Linked DNA regions of Homo sapiens. The protein of the gene in region 1 interacts with the protein of each later gene in a pairwise test. Each region holds a gene or a part of one and is shown on either strand. Other genes may lie near its edges.

Region 1 (4,435 bases):
CTGAAGCGCTGAGCAACCTGGGTACCCTGGTGGGGATGCAGGGAAGGCCGGGGCAGAGAAAGTGAAGGTCGACCCAGGGCTGTAGGAAGCCATAGGAGAGTGACCACGGGATTCCCTGAGAAACAGGGCCGGCCCCCCAACTTCAGGGACCCACCGCCCATTCCCCGAGAGCTGTCGGAACCAGATGCAACCCGGCAGCCCAGAGAACTCTCCTGGGAGGCTGTGGGTGAGCCAGGCCAACATTGGTGTCCCTGTCCCCAGAGGGAGGAGCAGGCAGGAGAGAGAGGGGAAGGAGGTATGAATCCCAGTCCCCAGGAACCTAGCTCTTTAAACTCTGGGGAGTCGGATTCAGGAAACACCCCCAGGAGGCCAAGCCTGAAAACAGAGGGGAGGGAGGAAGGAAGGAGTCCCAGCAGGAGCACAGCCCTGGTTTCCTGTCACTCAGAGCTGATTCACAGGAGGAGGGGAGGTTGGGGGGCGGGAGACAAAAACCACACCTCTTTTTATATAAGGTTTCATATTTAATTTGGTCATGGATTCATAAATACATAAGTATTTTGTACACAATGTGCTTCCTTGTTTGTATTATAACACATTTCAAATAGGGACCTTTGACAGGGCAGAAGCATGAAAGGACACCAACCACGAGTGACACACTATACTATGGCTGTCCTGTGTCACATGCTATTTGGCCTGGGGATATAGCAAAGCCTAATGTAACTAAACAACAAAACCCCCAATTATTTCATGTCGTCAGGAAGCTTACTTTAAAAGAATAGCTTGGCCTGGCTGGTGGCTCACGCCTGTAATCCCAGCACTTTCGGAGGCCAAGGTGGATCACCTGAGGTCAGGAGTTCGAGACCAGCCTGACCAACATGGTGAAACCCCGTCTCTACTAAAAATACAAAAATTAGCCAGGCGTGGTGGCGGGTGCCTGCAATCCCAGCTACTCCGGAGGCTGAGGCACGAGAATCGCTTGAACCCAGGAGGCGGAGGTTGCACTGAGCCAAGATCGTACCGTTGCACTCCAGCCTGGGCGAGAGAGTGAGATTCTGTCTCAAAAAAATTAAAAATAAAAGAAAAATCTTAAACACTGATAAGGCTGACACTCTAGATGCATCTTCTAGGAAGGCCTCTGTGGAAGGGACAAGGGACCTGGGACCGGACTGGCACCTTCTGAGCCCTGAGGCTGAGCGTCCTGCACAGAAGGCCCAGCAAAGGCAAAGACCAGGAGGCAGCAGCACCCTGTGCCTTCCAGAAGTGCAGGGGACAACGCGTGGGATGCCAGATGGAAGTGGGAGAGGATGGAAGTGCAAAGACCAGAAAGGTCACCCCCCACTCCTAAAACTCCACAGACACAACAGTCTGAATGTGTGATCTTCAGGCAATTCTAACTTTGTCCCACCCAAACCAGTCCCGGAACAAAACACACAATGCCTTGAGACAGAAAAGACCAAAAACTCCTGGAATGACTACCTGCATAAATGATCCTTCCATGACTGAAATACTATGGAGAAGGGTTTGCTGGAAAGAGGCTGAAATGGTTACTGAGGTCTTAAAACAATAATAGAACAGGACACAAGAAGAAAACCTTAATGCGTCAGCCATTCTAGGTCCTGTTGCCACAGTGTTTAAGAATTGACATTTCTGAGATGAGTCAGATGCTTACAGAGCGGCCAAGGTCCTCAAGTAGGCAATCTGTACCCTAAAAGGCAGCTCATGGGCTCAGGGTGACAGATAACCAGAAGTGAGCCGGGCCATCTACTCCTGAGATGGCAACCATTTCACACCATTCTCAAGCACCATCTACTCTTCCCCCTTGATGCCATGGCAGACGTGGGAGACAGATTTTGTCTTCTATCTCCTGAGCCCAAACAGGGCTCAAGTTCACTTGGGATATGACATAGACCCTATTGTTATGTGTGATCTAACCCATCTGCCTCTGTCCCAGCCTGTCCATAGATGGGGGCTATGGGTGCAAATGAGACTGCCCAGGTAGGGACCAGCCACACACAGGACTTCACGTGGATCCAGTTCTCTTTGGTCCCGACTCATATGTAAACAACTACCTATAAATAATACTCATATACTTGTAAGGTTGTCCAGTTCAAAAGACTGGCCCCTGTAGAAGTTGCCAATCATTGAAGCCAAAGTACATCTGAGGGAGGGCTGGAACCCAGACAGTGACATCTTACAGGGGACTTCTTCTTCTTCCCCCATTGTATGTCTCCTCCTTTTATGTTTATCTAATCTATTCACATAACTATGTAAACAAGTACATTTACTAAAGTTTCTTCATGTTCATAAAATAATAACATACAGAATTATAAAAGTAGAAAGGTAAGGCCAAGCATGGGGGCTCACGCCTCTAATTCCACCGCTTTGGGAGTCTGAGGTGGGCAGACTGCTTGAGTCCAGGAATTCGAGACCACCCTGAGCAACATAGAGAGCCCCTATATCTAGACAAAATACAAAAAATTAGCCGGGCGTGGTGGTGCACACCTGTGGTCCCAGCTATTTGGATGGCTGAGGTGGGAGAATCGCTTGAGCCTGAGAGGTCAAGGCTATAGTGAGCCAAGATTGCACCATTGCACTCCAGCCTGGGAGACAGAGTGAACTGCCCCGCACCCCCCACCCAAAAAAGGTTCATATCATATAGTATCAAGTGAAGTCGGACAACGACTGTGTAGATGGATCTTACAATGTAGCCCAAATAAATAAATAAAGCATTTACATTAGGATAAAAAAGTGCTGTGAAAACAATGACATCCCAAACCAAATCTCAAAGTACGCACAAACGGAATGATCCAGACATTTCCATAGTGTCCTTATTATCACATTCAGCTTATAAAAATAATGCCAAGTGCAGTGAAAAGTTACAGGATGTTCCATCCACTGGGTGATGTTGGATGGGAGAGTTTCTTCCAGTACCGGTCATGTGACAATTGTGGCACTTTCCTACTGACTGGAGTCCAGTTGGGCTTTTTCCAGAAAAAAGGTAAACCAGGGAAGGTCTGACTTCCTGAAGAGAATCACACTTAGGACATGGCAGAGTCTGCATTACCTTCTAGATACATGAACTTTCCAGAGCTCAACAAGTGGTCCTCAATCTTCTGCTTGGCAAGTCTCTCTCCCAGCGTCTCCAAGGCATCCAGCAGGGTGTGGACAGAGGCATCTCGCCCGGTTTTGTTGACCCACTTTATCAGCATCGTGTACAAGGTGTCCCTGTGGCCCGCTGCCTCAGCTTTAGCCACCTTTATCTCATTGTCCATGAGGCCCAACTTCCTCATGAGCGGCTCCCAGGAGTCAAAGGGCACCAAGTCTGCAAAGTCATCGAAGCACTGTCTCAGAGCTGGTGGAGAAAGCCACAGAGACAGCCAGGTGAGTTGGGACTCAGAAAGGGCAGAGGATTCCACATCAGGCCCAGAACCCAAGGCGGGGAACCTGGAGAGCCCCGTGTGCGGGCAAACCTGCCGCTCCAGTGCCCACCCGCTTCCCATCCACAGAGAGCGCGCCCACACTGCCTGGCCTCCCCCACACGCAAGGCACTGCGGGGAGTCAAAGTCGTCAGAGAATCAGCCCTCATACAGGGCTGAGAACCCACCAGGGGAGTATGGATGGACGTTACAGAGGCAGAAAGTAAAGTGCGTGAGAGTCCGAGGGAGGGAGAGACAGTGGCTGCAGCGGGAGCTTAGAGGAGGGAGGAGGCTGCCTGGGCTGCGCTTGTCATGGGAGCAGGTCCCAGGGCGGCCACTTCTGCATCTGTGGAAAGCACAGGGCCTGGGACAGGGGACCTCTGTTTTCACCCAGCTCGGCCTCACTTCCTGGGGCTGGGGCAGAGCTAGGTGGAGGCAAACAGACTCTGAGCAAGAAGTGAACCCAAAGACCGAGCAATGCTGCCCAGATCTCGGGACGATGAGGGATTAAATGAGACGTGTGTGCAACATGATGCACCTCGCCGTCCTCAGAGATAGACAGGGTCAGGAACACGAGGCTATGTTTTCCAACAGCCTTATTTTAAAGAACATCAGAAACAAGTGACATTCATTTTAATGTATGGTACTGAATATATTTAAAATATAATTTAATATACAATCAATATACAAAAATTATGAGTGAAATATTTTCCACTCTTTTTTGCATTAAGTCTTTGGCATTCGTATGTAGTTTACACAACAGCTCTGCAAATTGGGCTGAGGCACAGGTCAAGAGCTCCTTAGCCCACTGGGGTTAGTGGTGCTGTGCAGGACAGGCCAGCCCCTCAGGAGGTCCTCAGGGGCAGGCGGGGGCTACATCAGGCCCTGAACAAAGGAGGAGAGAGGATGAGGGGACGGACAGAGTCATTAGGGTCAATGATAGGGTGCAGAGAGGATGAGGTAGAGTGGGGAGAAGAGATGGGAGAAGACAGTTTAGGGTCCAGATGGTCTATAGCACA
Region 2 (7,036 bases), about 38 Mb from region 1:
ATTTCCTCTGTTCAATAAATACTGAAGGTCACAAACACCTTTTTACTTTTCAAGAGTTTGCCTTCTCTTCTCGATTTTAGTAATTAATTTGGATATTTTTCCTCCCATGCCTCTTCATCTGATTTAGTGGGATGTTTTCAATACCAGCAAAACAAAAGAACAGGAAAAGTATTTTGCAAACTCATCTACTGGAAGCTAATCTCCTTAAGGTCAAGCAAAAAGGGTCAATTTCAATTTCAAAGAGCTGTTCTTTAAATGAGATAAAGAAAGTCTCCTTTTGTTTTTAGATGGAAAAGAAAGCACAAGTTTTTTCTACCTGTGAATGAACTTTGGTGACCTATATGTGCCATTCATGCAGCATTTTTGTTCATATTGGCTTAGAATTCAGTGCATGAATATCATTACATTCTTATATCTAACATTCCTAGTTAGCTTTGATTCAAAATATACAAAATCTGATACATGAATACTTTGCTAGATTAATGACTTGATCATCTTTGGAATGAGTAGGCAAGACGATTTTTACCTATTATTTCTATGTTGTGGGTAATGTTAAAACTAAATACAGATGATAATAATTGCTATTTCACAGTGATGTTTAAAATGGCAGAGATTTCTCAAGCCAGAGAGATGGGACAGTCTTCCAAACTCTTTCATCAAAAAGGAAAGTAATCTGGACCTCCTACGCCCAAGAAAAACATCCTGGCATTCTTGGTAACCTTTTACTCTGCCATCCTTAATCTTTCTACAGAATTGTAGCAGAAATCATCTCCAAGACTGAAGAGCTGGCTTCCTGACATTCACATGGATCTACCATAGGCAAAGACACTGTGTTCCCAGCCCTTGCCTCATGGATGGCAAAGCCGCCAGGAGCCAGACACCCTAGCAGCCACCTATCCACCCAACCCTGAAAGAACATAGTTTTATTTCCGTGAACTATACTTTTTCCCCAGAAGCTCTAATAATTGGCATTAAAAAAATTTGCATCTGGGATTTTTATAACAATATAAAATAATTCCATGCTCTTTTTTCGGTGTGAAAAGTTCCTCTTTGAAAGAAATAGGATTTTGTCAATATCTCCACCACTAGCATAGTGAGAAGAGGATCTCAATCAAGATAAAAAAAACCAAACGATTTGAGAGTTGGGATGGGTACAGTTCATAGACACTGACATAATGAGCTCTTTCTTTTTTGTTAGGAAAATAAAACTGCTTTTTTCATGAGTATCTTTTACTAAGAAGAATTAAAAGAGGGAAGTCTGAGTTCCCCAGTAATGCTACCATTAAATAGCTAGAAGTAAAGCATTTATACAGCTTGTCATTAAAATAAACAAAAATGTAGTGGTACATGATGACAAAATAGTCTAGCTACACTAGAAAAATATAACTGCATAGAAAAATTACAAACTAAAGCAATCCATTCACAGTTTCTACATATGTTCTCATTATACATTGAATTAGACCTATTCTATGTGGAAAAAATATCTTTGGCTGGTAAGGTAGAAGCTATCAAATGTTCACCTTAAATACTGGCAGAAGACCAGTGCTGTCATGAGATGACACACAGCAGGGTGTTTCCTAAATGAATTGCAGCGAGGCAAATATTCCCTTTAGTGTCTTCTGACCCTAGGAGGAGGCTTTGAATTACTCGGGCTGCAAGTCAAGGGAATTGACTCTTGGTGTTCGAAATTCTATCCTCACACCCAAGGAGATGGAACCAGAAAGGCAGCCTCTCTCCAGAGTTTCCCAAGCTTGCATGAATTCATGCTAAATTGCTGGAAGGCTGCGTCTCTGCTGTGGTGTCAGTTCCGGATGCCACACATCCACGATGAATATCAGCCGGAAAGATGAGGCATCCTGCCATACCTCGTGCTCAAAGGAGTCATCAAAGATGAGCACCTTGCCTTCCTCCCAGGTCCTGCAGCAGAAAGACAAGGATTCCTGAATATAGTTTTGTGTGGTTCAGATGTCTGAGGATCGATTCCTGTCCATGTGCGAGAACTACCTTTGGTAACAACCTTTGGGACATAACCAAATAACTAGAACATCAAGCCCAAGTTTATTCTTCCCTTGATGATTAGGAAAGAATTTCAGAAATCTTGCTATGAACATCAGTTTTCATTGCTCAGTGCTGGAGATGTACAAACAACAGAGGATTTGTGATGAAGACATATTGGTCTCATTACATGCCTTGCAATTATTCTGTATATTATTACATGTCTTGCAATTATTCTGGTTTAGACATATGGGCAGTGACTGGGTCTCAGGCATCTCTATGCCTCTCAAGACACTTCCAATCAATTGTCTTTTCAGCTCACTCCACTTGTTCAAGTTTCATTTTATGGAAGAAAGGAATCTGCTTAAACACAGTACCATAAAGCAGAAAACTAAATTAGGAGTTTCCTAGCTAGTATTCCAGCTGAAGAAAATGGGCAGATTGGGAATAAATTTTGTTTATATTTTTAGTATCATCTTCTATGCAAGTGGGTTATCCATGGGATATTTTAAATCAATGCTGCAAAACACCCTATAGAGCTTCCAACTTTACCTCATAAGATATCTGTATAGGGACTGCGATCTAAATATAGTGTTAGTCTATTAAGAGAGAAACATACAGGAGGCAGTAACACAATGCTTTTCAAATCCAAAGAGAGTTTATGAGGGACACTGATGGTTCCTTATTTTAAAAATAGATATTAACTGCCAATATATTAAATACCAAGTTATGTTTTTAAAATAAAATTTTTGCTAGAAAATTTTCCTTAGATACTAAAATGCCACTTAAGCCTTCAAAATTTTACATCCTGGATTAGCAAATAATGACTATTATAGCATGGGAAATGCTAGCTTGATTTCAAGTTACTATATTATCATAAAGAGGTTTTCTGTGCGAAAACTAGTGGTGAATTTTTATGTTCCATATCAGGTGATTAACTAATATAAACTGAGCAATACTACATATATTGCAGGGCTTCACAACCGTGGTACTACTGACATCTAGGCTGGATCATTCTCTGTTGTAGGGGCTGTTCCATGCACTATGAGATATTTAGCGGCACCCCTGACCTCCACCCACTGTATGGCAGTAGCATTCCCTATACCATGAGGTTGGTGCAAAAGTAATTGTAGTTTTTGCCATAGTTGTGACAACCAGAAACATCTCTAGTCATTGCCAAATGTCCAGGGTGGGAGCAGGAGCAAAAATCATTCCAGTGGAAAATAACTGACATACTGAATAAGTCTGATAATAAAATTTCCAAGTTATGTAAACTAACAGATAAAGTACTGAGTATTTGCAAGTTGAAAGTTCACTGAAGTTGGGAACTGAACCTCTACTTCTACTACCCACCCTCCCACCTCCACCCAGTGTGCTATCTCATACACTTCGTGATATGGTTTGGATGTGTCCCCACCCAAATCTCATCTTGAATTGTACTCCCATAATTCCCACATGCTGTGGGAAGGACCCGATGAGAGATAATTTGAATCATGGGGGCAGCTTCCCCCATACTGTCCTCATCATAGTGAATAAGTATCATGAGATCTGATGGTTTCATCAGGGGTTCCCGCTTTTGCATCTTCCTTATTTTCTCTTGCCGCCACCAGGTAAGAAGTGCCTTTCAGCTGGATGCGGTGGCTCACGCCTGTAATCTCAGCACTTTGGGAGGCTGAGGACAGTGGATCACAAGGTCAGGGGTTCGAGGCCAGCCTGGCCAACATGGTGAAACCCCCATCTCCACTAAAAATACAAAAATTAGCCAGGCGTGGTAGCGCATGCCTGTAATCCCAGCTACTCAGGAGGCTGAGGCAGGAAATTGCTTGAACCTGGGAGGCAGAGGTTGCAGTGAGCTGAGATCATGCCACTGTGCTCCAGACTGAGTGACAGAGCAAGACTCCATCTCAAAAAAAAAAAAAAAAAAAAAGAAGTGCCTTTTGCCTCCCACCATGATTCTGAGTCCTCCCCAGCCATGTGGAACTGTAAGTGCAATTAAACTTCTTTTTCTTCTCAGTCTCAGGTATGTCTTTATCAGCTGCATGAAAACGGACTAATACACCTTGCCTCATCTCTTGCATTCAACACACACATGTTGATTGGCTCTTCTACAACTCCTCTGAAGGTTTTTAGAGTTCCATTGGAGTTCCATCAAGGGTAGCAAAAGACAGAAATCTATGGACTTAGGAGAAAATGACAGAATATGCATTCATTACCATGCAAAATCTAACTTGAGAAGAAAGGCAAAACCAAGGCGGGGAAATACGCTGACAAGAAAAATCAGTGAAACAGTCCACAGCTTCCACAGTTAGGCAGGCATTTTCTAGGTCTCAGTGTTGTCACCGGGATTAAGCAATGTCAGTGGGTACCACAAACGAGCCTATAATTTATGTAGAAGATGAGGGAGGAAGTGTACTCAAAATGAAAGGCAGTGCACCTATGTTCACAGCAGCACTATTCACAACAGCTAGAAGGTGAGAGCCACCCACGTATCTATCAGTGAATGAACAGACAAACAAAATGTGGTATACACATACAATGGAATATTAATTCAGCCTTAAAAAGGAAGGAAATTTTGACACATGCTACAACATGTATGAACTCAGAGGACATTATGTCAAGTAAAATAAGCCAGACACAAAAAGATAATTACTAGTTGATTCTACACATCTGAGGTCCTAGACTAGTAGTTAAATTCACAGAGAGAGAAAGGAGAAGAGTGGTTGCCAGTGGCCGGTGGGAGGACGGGAATGGGAGTTATTTAATGGGTATAGTTTCAGTTTTGCAAGTTAGAAAGAGTTTTGAGGATAGATCATGTTGATGGTTATACAATATGGATGTACTTAATGTCACTAAACTGCACACCTAAAAATGGATAATATGGTAAATTTTGTTATGTGTATTTTACTACAATTAAATAGAGAAAAAAGGGAAAGGCAAAGGAGAGCATGTGGTAGAGGAGAAAGAAAGAAGCAATACAGGAAGATGGAAATTTATGGTCTTTGAGGGGAATCCTCTTGACCTTGGCATTTATTACTTATGGGACCTAAGGTGAGCTACTTAGCATAATTGATTCTTTGTGTCTTCATCGGCATAATTGATGTGAGGATTAGCATATGATTGGCAATAGTAGATATTCAATTAATGACAGAAAAATGAAAATATAAAGAAAAATAGGGAAAAGATAAAAGACAGAGGTGAAATGTTGGGAAGTGGTATGTTATCAAAAATGACATATGCATCACTCTTTATGATGTTGTCTGCCTTCCTTTGAGACAACTAAAAACTTCCAAGGGAGATGAGATATAAAAACATCTTCAGAGCATCTGTGAAATGTAGTTTGTACAGCAATGACAAGTGATTTTCAAAGTTTTTTGGGTGGCAGAGAACCTGGAAACTACTTAAAACACTAGAAGTAATTAAAATAACTGAATAGAAAATTCTAGCCCACACAAAATGACATTTTTCACTAGATTATGATACGTATAACAAAGCCAAAGATCTAGAATTGTTTTCTGGGAAAAAGGCCTTAAGCATTCCATTCATTAAATTAAATTCCTGAGAACTGGGAAAAGTTATTAGCACCGGAACACGCTGGTCACTCATGGAACATCAGTGCATATAAAAGTAGAACTTAAGAACCACAGGCTTGCAGCTTTCCAGATACATTAAGTACAATACAGATCAGTGTAAACCATTAATTAACCAATTGTATAAATAAGAAATTTGGGGAGGTATACCAAAGGGTTGTTAATTGGCCTGTTTCAGGGTCATAAAACTCTATGGGGAAAGTGAGTGCTGTCGGACTTATTTGCCCTTCCACTTTCTTTCATACATTTCCCCAGAAAATAGCAAAGATAGTCAATAACATAATGTAGATTTTTTAATGTAGATTTCTTCTGAATTCTTAAAAAAATGGTGTCTTTCAATCAGTTATTAGAGATAGAATGACTAAAACTGTAGTCACGATTCACCTAAAAGGGGAAAATGAAGAACAATAAAACATCCTACAAGCCATGTCCAGACTTAAGTGACTCCAGGTTAAATTCGAGATGTATCACATGCTTGGGAAAGGATGTTTTTTTTCCACAACAAAGGGAGAGGAGCATAAAGATGTCAAATCGCTTCTGACTGAAAACCAAAGACTCTCATTAGAATGCAAAGAACTAGTTTTCAGGCCACTTGCTTTGTGAACAAAGCTCCATCAAATAAGATTAAGTTACACTCGAATTACGACATACAATCAGCCCTTTGGAGAAACAATCTTCAGAGCGGCCTGTGACAGAGGTCTGCCTGGAAGTACTGTTACAGCCTTGTCTAAGGACCCAGAGAAGCAGCATTGGGGGTGGGCACTGCTCTCCATCCCTGGAAGCTTGGCTCACTGTTGGAACTTCCTCCTTCCCTTCCTCTCTCTCTTTCTCTCCTCCCACCTAACCCTTTATTTTTTTCAAGACAGGATTTGCTCTGTCACCCAGGCTGGAGTGTGGTGGCACCATCACAGCTCAATGCAGCCTCCGCCTCCCAGGCTCAGGTGATCCTCCCACCTCAGTCTCCCGAGTACCTAGGACTACAGGTATGTGCCACCACATCCAGCTAATTTTTGGATTTTTTTGTAGAGATGGGGTTTCCCCATGTTGCCCAGGCTGCTCTCCAACTCCTGGGCTCAAACAATTCTCCTGCTTTGGCCTCTCAAAGAGTTGGGATTACAGGTGTGAGCCACTGTTCCTGGCCTTCTGTTAGAATTTCTTACCACTAAGAGAAGAAAGTCTCTCTCTGGGTTGTCAAAAGATATAAGAATATCTCGTCCTAAGATAAAACAGTATTCCATAATCTGTCAACTTCTCAAATTATTATAATTATAAATAATGATAATGATAAAATGGTGGCAGTGCATATTTAATAACTATAATTTGGTCACAGAATTACCATTGATATTAATAAGGCTAAGTAATGATACTAGGTGCTTATAGAGTCTTCTACCTACAAATTTTATAGATAATATCTTAGCTATCTTTGCTAAAATGTTCTGAGATAGGCAAAGGAC

Evidence for each region.
Region 2: the proteins of TNFRSF10B (region 1) and ASPH interact in binary tests that used the Homo sapiens proteins (3 or more experiments, as listed by UniProt).

The regions. Positions count from the first base shown.
Region 1 is NC_000008.11:23,019,633-23,024,067, forward strand, and holds the end of TNFRSF10B (tumor necrosis factor receptor superfamily member 10B isoform 1 precursor), read right to left. Parts: intron 3,353-4,435; coding exon 3,039-3,352; 3' UTR 501-3,038; downstream 1-500. UniProt on the Homo sapiens protein: Receptor for the cytotoxic ligand TNFSF10/TRAIL. The adapter molecule FADD recruits caspase-8 to the activated receptor.
Region 2 is NC_000008.11:61,501,593-61,508,628, forward strand, and holds part of ASPH (aspartyl/asparaginyl beta-hydroxylase), read right to left. Parts: intron 1,918-7,036; coding exon 1,767-1,917; 3' UTR 1-1,766.